Homo sapiens: one gene and its partners. The protein of the gene in region 1 purifies or fractionates together with the protein of each later gene. This does not show direct contact. Each region holds a gene or a part of one and is shown in the gene's direction. Other genes may lie near its edges.

Region 1 (3,656 bases):
GTCTTTGAGACTGCGCTTTCAATTGTTTTGGTTATATCCCCAGAAGTAGGATTGTTGGATCGTATGTTCTTTTTTTTTTTTAAAGCAGGGTATTACTCTGTCACCCAGGCTGGAACGCAGTGACATGAACACAGCTCACTGCAGCCTGAACTTCCTGGGCTCAAGAGGTCCTTCTCCCTCCACCTTCCCAGTAGCTGGTGTACGCCATCATGCCCCAAAAATTTATTTTGATTTTTGTAGAGGCAGAGTCTCACTATGTTGCCCAGGCTGGGCACAAATTTGTGGCCTCATGCAATCCTCCCACCTTGGTCTTCCAAAGTGCTGGGATGACAAGTGTGAGCCACTGCGCCTGACTACTATTTTTAATTTTTAAATTATTGTTATTATTTTTAGAAACAAGAGTCTTGCTCTGTTGCCCAGGCTGGAGTGCAGTGGTGCAATCATGGCTCACTGCAGCCTTGACCTCCCTGGCTCAATTGATCCTCCCACCTCAGCATCCCACATAGCTGGGGCTACAGGCATGTGCTACCATGCCCAGCTAATTTTTAACTTTTTCATAGGCATGGGATCTCTCTATGTTGCCCACACTGGTCTCAAACTCGTGATTCAAGCAATCCTCCTGCCCCAGCCTCCCAAAGTGCTGGGATTACAGGCATAAGCCACCATGCCTGGCCAGTATCTTACTGTTAAGGAATTAAAATCCAATTAAAAAATATTTAGCCTCATATACACACACACATACACATATGTGTGTATATATTTATATATATTTCTAATATATAGAAGTTTCTATATATTTCTATTATATCTAAGATACAATATACAGTTATCATGTTATCCCCCAAATAAAGGTGATTTCCAAGACCAGAACTGGAAGGTGGGAATTATTCTGTATGACCCAGCTATTTGGATCTGGATTTTTTCAGGGAGAAGGAATCAGATTTAGATGACTGGCAAGGAAAGATCATGCATTTTACAGAAGGAGGTGTATTATAGGGGTGGAACTTTGGCTTAGTTCCAATCATTTTCAGCAGTATCTAGTATAGCCACCTCTTATCCCAGGGCAGCCTCACAAAGTCATTGCCATCTGTGATATGGTAGCAGGGATATGAGCCCTGGAATCACTCAGACTTCATTTCAGAATGCTGACCCCACCAGTTACTAGCTGTGCCCTGAACAGAACAAAAGAGAATACTGGTTTTATTCATTTGTAAAACTGGAAAAATAATTGTGGAGTTGTTTTGAGAATTCATACATGAAAATAGAGTGCATGGTACATACCTGTAGGCCTTCCTTGCCCCCATCATCCCACACCTCCACCTTCCAAGGTGCATGTTCAGTGTCCCTTACCTGTGTTCCCACAATGGTTGGTTATCATAGAAGCTGTCACATTGGTGTAATTGTTCACCTTGGCACATTCTATTAGTTTGTGAATTCCTTATCTTTGAATCTCTAGCAACTTAGCAGAGGACCTAGTTCATAGTAGGTACCAAAGAAGTATAAATATGAATAGAATGAGTGCATGTCTTGCTGTTTTATTTCTCAGGGGAGGAATGTGGGCCTATTTCAGCAGGACAATAGATAGATACCGTATATAGTGTAGTCAGTAATTACGAACTAGTCTAGTGGCTCTGAAAGTTTTTGGTGTTAGGACTCCTTTACAGTCTTAAAAATGATTGTGGGCCCCAAACACCCTTTGTTTATGTGGACTGATATTCAGGGTCTTTAGGAATTTAAAATTAAAATATGAATTTTAAGGTAATGATAAACACATTACATGTTAACACATTTTCATGAAAAATAACATTCATGCCTCCCATTTTTTTCTAATGATTTTACAGTCATTAGAAAATATTTTACAGTTTTCTAAGCCTTTTGCATGTCTGACTTAAGATGGAGTTTCCTGTTTGCTGCATTCAGTCTGTTGTGATAAGTCATTTTGATTAAAGTATATGCAAAAAATCAAGCCTCACATAGATATGTAGTTTGAAAAAGGAAAATCTCCTGGACTCCCAAAAGGATCTCAGGGACTTCCAGGGGTCTTCTGAAAATGCTTTAAGAATCACTGATCTAGTCTGAAAAGGAAAGTGTGGTGTCCAGATATTAGAGGATGGATTAGGGAGAAAGCCCATGTGTTTAGCTCTCTATAAAACGGGTTTACCCGTTGTCATTTATTATTTGTAGGTTAAAAAAAGTCCTTCATGAAAAAGAAAGATCTTAAGCAGCATGATGGATTCAGAAGCTCATGAAAAGAGGCCACCAATACTAACATCTTCAAAACAAGATATATCACCTCATATTACAAATGTTGGTGAGATGAAGCATTACTTGTGTGGCTGCTGTGCAGCCTTCAACAATGTCGCAATCACATTTCCCATTCAGAAGGTCCTCTTTCGACAACAGCTGTATGGCATCAAAACCCGGGATGCAATACTTCAGTTGAGAAGGGATGGATTTCGAAATTTGTATCGTGGAATCCTTCCCCCATTGATGCAGAAGACAACTACGCTTGCACTTATGTTTGGTCTGTATGAGGATTTATCCTGCCTTCTCCACAAGCATGTCAGTGCTCCAGAGTTTGCAACCAGTGGCGTGGCGGCAGTGCTTGCAGGGACAACAGAAGCAATTTTCACTCCACTGGAAAGAGTTCAGACATTGCTTCAAGACCACAAGCATCATGACAAATTTACCAACACTTACCAGGCTTTCAAGGCACTGAAATGTCATGGAATTGGAGAGTATTATCGAGGCTTGGTGCCCATTCTTTTCCGGAATGGACTCAGCAATGTCTTGTTTTTCGGCCTTCGAGGTCCCATTAAGGAGCATCTGCCTACCGCAACGACTCACAGTGCTCATCTGGTCAATGATTTTATCTGTGGAGGTCTATTGGGTGCCATGTTGGGATTCTTGTTTTTTCCAATTAATGTTGTAAAAACTCGCATACAGTCTCAGATTGGTGGGGAATTTCAGTCTTTCCCCAAGGTTTTCCAAAAAATCTGGCTGGAACGGGACAGAAAACTGATAAATCTTTTCAGAGGTGCCCATCTGAATTACCATCGGTCCCTCATCTCTTGGGGCATAATCAATGCAACTTATGAGTTCTTGTTAAAGGTTATATGAAAAAACCATCAGTTAAGTGCCATTTATCAACTGAATAGACCTTCTAAGAAGAATGCAGTTTGGCCTCTTTTTTTTTTTTTTTTAAAGGAAATCCCAATCTTATTATGGAAAGCCATCAACTGGGTGTGGGGAGTAGGTCAGAGGGTTAGTGAAAGTCCAGGGGATTTCTCCTCCAAGTCCTACCACACAAAGGAAAGTCTCAAGCCTCTATTCACCCCTTCTCAATCCTCACAAAATAGGGGGTTGTTCAATATTGTCTTCAATGATAAAAACTTTGTGGTTAAAAGTTTCTCCTTAGGACTAGTGACAAAGTTAGGCTTATACTTTTTTTTTTTTTTTTGAGGCAGAGTCTTGCTCTGTTGCCCAGGCTGGAGTGCAGTGGCACGATCTTGGCTCACTGCAACCTCCGCCTCCAGGGTTCAAGCAATTCTCCTGCCTTAGCCTCCTAAGTAGCTGGGATTACAGGCGCCCGCCACCACGCCCAGCTAATTGTTTTGTATTTTTAGTAGAGACGGGGTTTCACCATGTTGGTCAGG
Region 2 (3,656 bases), on another chromosome or scaffold:
ACACACATATATATATATATATATATATATATATATATATATATATACACATATATATATTCTTTTGAGACGAAGTTAAGTCTTGTTGCCCAGGCTGGAGTGCAATGGCACGATCTCGGCCCACCGCAACTTCCGCCTTCCGGGTTCAAGTGATTCTACTGCCTCAGCCTCCTGAGTAGCTGGGATTACAGGCATGCACCACCACGCCCGGCTAATTTTGTATTTTTGGTAGAGACAGGGTTTCTCCATGTTGGTCAGGCTGGTCTTGAACTCCCAACCTCAGGCGACCCGCCCACCTCAGCCTCCCAAAGTGTTGGGATTACAGGCGTGAGCCACTGCGCCCAGCCTAAAAATATTTTTAAATGTTGATTAAGTGTGTACATCTTGGATTATTTTTCTTTAATAATAAGCACTTTTTTAATTATTATTATACTTTAAGTTTTAGGATACATGTGCACAACGTGCAGGTAAGCACTGGTTTTTAAAAGAGATTACACATATTTCAACCACATATGCATTTTTGTTTTGTTTTTAAATTTGGTCAAGTCAGAGAGGGACATTGCGTTCTTGGGTTTTGTTTAAATCAGATACTAATCTTTACTTTGCTATTTATTCACAGTCCTATTGATGTAGAGATTTTTCTGACTTATTCAATTTTTAAATAATTTCTCAACTTAGAATGACTTAATCCAAAGGAAGGGAACTTTTTTCCCTGACACTCAGAGAATCACCTCCACTTTAGGACTAAGTTTGCACTGCCCATTGTCTACATGTGGCTATTGAAATTTAAATCACTTCAGATTAATGAAAATTATAAAGTCAGTTCCTCAGTTTCACTAGCCACATTTCAAGTGTTTGATAATTCTATTTGGGCTACTGAACTGGATGGCGCAGAGATAGAACATTTCCATCATCACAGGAAGTTCTGTTGGACAGCACTGTAAGGGTGAGCTCAGAGGTTTTAAGTAATGTGCACTAATTGAATGATGTGACATTTTAAAAAGGCTCATCTGGAAATATATAACTTTTAGCTCTGAAGCATATCATCACTATATCATGGTTGGACAATGTCTGAAAAACATCTTTTCTTCAGAATTTAATTGGTTATGGTGCTAAGAATTGGGAATCTGGGCAATAAAATGGCCTGGAGGTTTTGCTTTGCCAACTGTTACTTATTTACATGACAATGTGTAGTACCTCAAAAAATATTGTCTCACTTTAAAATTTGAAATTACCATCCTAATTCCAAGGTGATATTATTAAACTTTTGCAGATTTCTAATTAGTTACACATTTATATATCTTCTATATTTAAAATGTTAGAAATGTTTGAATCAGATTTATATTTTCCAAATCCTTGATTTTCATTCACCTCTATTCTCATCTGTGCTATAAATGGCTTCCTGCTGCACTGAGGGATGGCAGAGATTGTGTCTGTCATGTTCATTCTTGTTTCCCCAGTGTTCAGCACTGTTTGTGGCACAAAATGGGTGCTCAATTGATATTTGTTGCTAGGCTCCACAGCCTCTTCCATGGCTTGACTTGTGTGAGTACTGTGTGTACTCTGCCATCAAACACTTTTTCCAAGAGTGGTCTTCAAAGGGGGTTTGTGGGGTTTTGTTTATTGTTTTGCCTTATCTGTTCATAAATTCTCACCCTTAACCAATCTCGTAACAGATACTGGGTCCCAAACTAGAGAACAAAAATTATGGCCAAATAATATCTCTAAAATCTCTGTTTTTAGGGAATAAGTCTGGGAACTTTAAGGGCTACCAAAACCCCAGTTTTATCCTTTTTATTTTGGACACTTTAAAGACATTTGGAAGTCATCATTTAAGCACGGCCAGAGATGTGGCTAACTTCCAGGAGAAATGAAATGGGCTCTTTGAGGGTGGGAGGGAACCATCTTTCTCCAGTGAAGTTTTTGTTGGAAAGATTAGCTGCTTTCTGAAAGCCAATTTCCTTTTTGGAGGAGGCATTATGGAAACCAGGAAAGCATGGGGAGGAGAATATTGGGAAGAGGGAAACTGTATGGAGTTAAAAAGTGCTGCATTTTTGTTTGCATTCAGGCACTTTTCTTAATTTATCAGTGCATTGGTTGCCATGTAAACAGCCAGCTTCTGGCAGGAAAGCAGCTGGACCAGGTGACCTGGCTGTGACAGAGAACACAGATATTGAATCCATGAAACCAAGAGTAATCAGTACAACGATTTTTTTTCTTTTACTTTTTAAAAGTGTTTGTCAATCCTTTAAGTTCTTTTTGTCTGACTGCTGTCATTAAGTAAGAAAAATATGAAATAAATAAGTCTTTGGGTATGCAAAATTGGGAAGATGGACAGGAATTAGTCCCTCTATGCAATTTCCTCTGAATCTTTCATAATTTCTGTATCCTCATCCCTTCACCCTCAACCCTCCAACACCCTCTGTTACCCTGCAGGCAACTAGGACAGCATAGAGAGCGTCTCTTGAACTTGACTTTCTCTTCCAGTGCTTGCCTGCCAATCCCGTGACCCATCCTGGAGAACTTTTATAGTCTTCGACAATGCAATGCATAGCAACCAGTTAATAAGATAAGACAGTGACTGTATAGTGCTCCCCAAAGTGCCATCACCTAAAATAGCCCTTTGGAAAGTGCTCATATAGAACTGAGAATTTTAGTGTAGTGGCAGGCTGGATTTGGGTAGGGTGCCCTTCGGTGGGCCTCCAAATCCTATGGGGAGCTTAATTACTTCATCTTTCTGTAAGGCCAACAGTTCTCAAAATTTGTGGTCTCAGGACAATTTTACACTCTTAAAAACTGAGGGAGATTTCTGGTCTGGACATGTAGTACAGACCTGTTTTTCATTGTTCCTCCCTGCTAAGCACAAGTATAAACCCTGGAAATAATGCAAGAGACAACCAGGGTAGAACTCTGGAAGGTTGTAAGGAGAAGGCAAACTGGTTTGAGACCCAGGGAAAAACAAAGAGCAAGGGTATCCTATGTTTCCCACCCAGCAGAAGAAAGAAACCTAGTCCTGGCCATTCCTGATACCCAACTGAACAACAGAGGGCAGCCCAGGTAAGCTTACTCCTCCCTCAGAGTCCCTCTGACAACATCAGGTAGGCCCAACACCACAGGTAAGGGGGGATCTTCAGAAACCCCACCAACAACAGTGGACAAAAGAAGCATTTGCCTTCTCCCCAGGCCTGAGATGTCCCACTTTCACCTAGAGATATCGAGGTGGGAGGGTAGAACAGACACGAGGCATAAAGTGATGGCAAGCGGCCCAGTCTGGGAAGGCTCTGTCTCAGTGGGTGTATGACTGTCCTCTCCTACCCATAGAGACACCAACAGTGCAGGGCGCCAGTAGAAGTGTCCCACCATACCTACCCCAACTGAGAGGCACCTGGAAGCCTGACCTAGGGAAACCTTTCTGCTCCTTCAGGCGATATGATCTGGGACAAATGTCAGCCTCAGTGATATCCGATAAACCAAACAGAGCAAAACAATACTGAAAATTAAACTGCTGTTAGAACAACAGACCACAAAAGTAAGCCAACACCTGCTTGCATGTGAAGCATAAATAATGTGACTGACTGCAAAAATAAAAAATGTAAATATGAGTTTCCTAACATAGTAGACAAAATGTTCAATCAAAAATCATCTGTCATACCAAG
Region 3 (3,656 bases), on another chromosome or scaffold:
ACATCTCAAGGCTCAACTGGGGAAAGGTAACGCTTCCAAGCTCGCTCACGTGGCTGTTGACAAGCCTCAGGTCCCAGCTGGCTGCTGGCTGGAGACGTTCTTTTGCTACCACATGGACCTCTCTATAGGGCTACTAACAAAACAGAGTGCTTCATGCAGATGTTGCAGCTTGCTGTCCTTGGAGCAAGGGCTAAGATTGAAAGATAGCAAAATAGAAGCCAAGGTCTTTTTGTAACCTGATATCAGAAGTGATATCCCATGGCTTCTGCTGTGTTCCTCATTAGAGACAAGTCACTAGTTTCAGCCTAATTCAAGGGGAAGGGATTACACAGTGGGAGGAATACCTACAGGAACCAAATCATTGAGAGCCACCTGAGATACTGCCTGCCACAATATAAGACATCAGAAGCTGTTTGATAAAGACTCAATTCAGTATCACCTCGTGGTTTTATCTCATAGTAATGTTCTCAGACTGAAATTAGATAATCTGTCAAAGAATTTGTAAAATATAAAGCTCTATACAATATCAAGATTTTATTAGTTTTATTAATGCTGAGAATCCAGTTCCACTTTATAGATAGTGATATAAGAACAGCAAATCAATGATTAAGAGATGTGAATTTTACACCTTGCTGTGTGTGTGACCTTGGAAAAGCCATTTATTTGTTTCATACCTTAGTTCTCTCATGAAAGTGATGATAATAACAGACTTACCAGGATAAAATAGATAATAGACAGCCATGCAGCACATTGACAATATTTTGGTCACCCACAAACCACATATATGACAGTGGTCCCACAAATTATAATGGAGCTGAAAAATTCCTACAGCCTAGTGACATCATCGCTATTGCAATGTTGTTGTAGCACAATGTATCGCTCATGTGCTTGTGATGAGGCTGGTGTAAGCAAACCTGTGCTGCCAGTTGTATAAAAGTATAGCACATACAATTATGTATAGTATATAATACTTGATAATAAACAACTGTTACTGGTTTATACATTTACTGTACTATACTTTTTATCATTATTTTGGGGTGTGTTCCTACTTAATTAAAAAAAAAAAGTGAAAAGAAGTTTAACTGTAAAACAGCCTCAGGCAGGTCCTTCAGAAGGTATCCCAGAAAACAGCATTGTTATTACAGGAGATGACAGCTCCATGCATGTTATTGCCCCGAAGGACCTTCCAACGGACAGGATGTGTAAATAGATACAGTGATACTGATAATCCTGAGCCTGTGTAGGCTAAGGCTAATGTGTCTGTATCTTAGTTTTGTTTGTTTGTTTGTTTGTTTGTTTGAGACAGAGTCTCAGTCGCCCAGGCTGGAGTGCAGCAGCACAATCTCACCTCATTGCAACCTCCGCCTCCCAGGTTCAAGCAATTCTCCCACCTCAGCTTCCTAGTAGCTGGGATTACAGGCACTCACCACCATGCCCAGCTAATTTTTTGAATTTTTAGTAGAGACGGGATTTCACCATATTGGCCATGCTGGTCTTGAACCCCCGACCTCAAATGATTCGCCCGCCTCAGCCTCCCAAAGTGCTGGGATTACAGGCGTGAGTATCTTAGTTTTTAACAAAAAAGTGTGAAAAGGAAAGAAAAAATTTAAAGTTTTAAAAATAGAAAAAAGTTTATAAAATAATGTTATAAATAATGAGAATATTTTTGTATAGCTATACAATGTGTTTTAAGCTAAGTGCTATTACAAAAAGAGTCAAAAAGGTTTTTTTAATTTAAAAGTTTGGGGGTTTTTTGTTTTGTTTTTGTTTTTGTTTTTGTTTTTTTGAGATGACGTTTCTTTCTTGCCTCCCAGACTGGAGTGCAGTGGCGTGGTGATCCCAGTTCACTGCAACGTCCGCCTCCCCAGTTTCAAGCAATTCTCCTGCCTCAGCCTCCCAAGTAACTGGGATTACAGGCATGTGCCACCATGCCCAGCTAAATTTTGTATTTTTAGTAGAGATGGGGATTCACTATGTTGGCCAGGCTGGTCTCAATCTCCTGACCTCAGGTGGTTTACCTGCCTCGGCCTCCCAAAGTGCTGGTATTACAGGCATGAGCCACCACACCCGGCCTAATTAAAAAGTTTATAAAGTAAAAAAGTTATAGTAAGATAAGGTTAACTTATTATTGGAGAGAGAAAAAATGGTTTTTACAAATTAGGTATAGCTTAAGTGTACAGTGTTTTTAAAGTCTACAGTAGTGTACAGTAATGTACTAGGCCTTCATATTCGCTCAACACTGACTCACTGACTCACCCAGAGCAGCTTCTAATCCTGCAAACTCCATTCATGATAAGTTCCCTACACAAGTATCCCATTTTTTATCTTTATACCATATTTTCACTGTACCCTTTCTACGTTTAGATACACAAATACTATTGTGTTACATTTGCCTACAGTATTCAATACAGTAACATGCTGTCTGGCTTTGTAGCCTAGAAGCAATAGGCTATGCCACATAGCCTAGGTGTGCAGTAGGCTACACCATCTAGGTTTGTGGAAGTACACATCTTGATGTTCACACAATGATGAAATGGCCTAACAATGCATTTCTCAGAATGTATGATGCATGGCTATATATAAAATTATGCTGAAATCTAAAAAAATGAGATGATGGTCATAATGACAATGATGAAGATGACTATATGTTTCAGCTTCTACTCCATGGTCCTTTGAGGACAACTGAAGTAACTAGATATGATTTTTGTCAGTTGTGTTTTAAGTGTATGTATCAAATCCAGCTACCCCAAGTTTTACAATAACTTTATATGGTTTAATCTTATCTTGCTGAACACATTAGATATGCTGCCCTGAAAAGTGGCTTGCAAACAGAATTTTTAGAAACTGAACCATAATTAAAATGCACAGAGGCCGGGCACGGTGGCTCACACCTGTAATCCCAGTACTTTGGGAAGCCAAGACAGGCGGATCACCTGAGGTCAGGAGTTTGAGACCAGCCTGACCAACATGAAGAAACCCTGTCTCTACTAAAAATACAAAATTAGCCATGCGTGGTGGCACATGGCTGTAATCCCAGCTACTCAGGAAGCTGAGGCAGGAGAATCGCTTGAACCCAGGAGGCGGAGGTTGTGGTGAGCCGAGATCGCGCCATTGCACTCCAGCCTGGGCAACAAGAGCGAAACTCTGTCTCAAAAAAAAAATGCACAGAGAAGGTTTCCATGTATCTAGTGGAATTGTACAATGCTTATGTGATCTTGTGATATCATTAATATTTTGTAATATAAATAATTATCCTCATTATTTTAATTTTCTGGCATTGTAGCAACACCTGTATAAATATTTATAGTTACTTAAGAACTCACAAAACAACCTTTTGAAGTAGGCAAATAAAACCAACTCTTGGTTATCTCAAAGAGTTCTTTTTGTTTGATTCTTGTGTTATCTACATTTCTTCTCTCACTGTAAATTGGCATAAATTTGGCAGATACAAAACAAGTAAAGTTCAAACTCCTCCACTCAACCACTTTAAGGGATTTTTTTTCCTGCTTATAAGTATATCACATGTTCATTGTAGAAAATTTGGAAATGCAGAAAAGTATAAAAAATGTAGTTAAAGTTACTCTTATTGCCACCACCAAGAGGCAGCCACTATTGATACTTTGATGAATTTCTGCCTTAGTGCTTTCCCTCTCTAT

The links.
Region 2: the proteins of SLC25A51 (region 1) and VSIG1 purify together in Homo sapiens (co-immunoprecipitation; one large-scale study listed by IntAct). This does not show direct contact.
Region 3: the proteins of SLC25A51 (region 1) and HTR1E purify together in Homo sapiens (co-immunoprecipitation; one large-scale study listed by IntAct). This does not show direct contact.

Annotation. Positions count from the first base shown.
Region 1 is NC_000009.12:37,887,121-37,890,776, reverse strand, and holds the end of SLC25A51 (mitochondrial nicotinamide adenine dinucleotide transporter SLC25A51), read left to right. Parts: intron 1-2,184; 5' UTR 2,185-2,226; coding exon 2,227-3,120; 3' UTR 3,121-3,173; downstream 3,174-3,656. UniProt on the Homo sapiens protein: Mitochondrial membrane carrier protein that mediates the import of NAD(+) into mitochondria. Mitochondrial NAD(+) is required for glycolysis and mitochondrial respiration.
Region 2 is NC_000023.11:108,047,956-108,051,611, forward strand, and holds part of VSIG1 (V-set and immunoglobulin domain-containing protein 1 isoform 2 precursor), read left to right. Parts: intron 1-3,656.
Region 3 is NC_000006.12:86,943,966-86,947,621, forward strand, and holds part of HTR1E (5-hydroxytryptamine receptor 1E), read left to right. Parts: intron 1-3,656. UniProt on the Homo sapiens protein: G-protein coupled receptor for 5-hydroxytryptamine (serotonin). Also functions as a receptor for various alkaloids and psychoactive substances.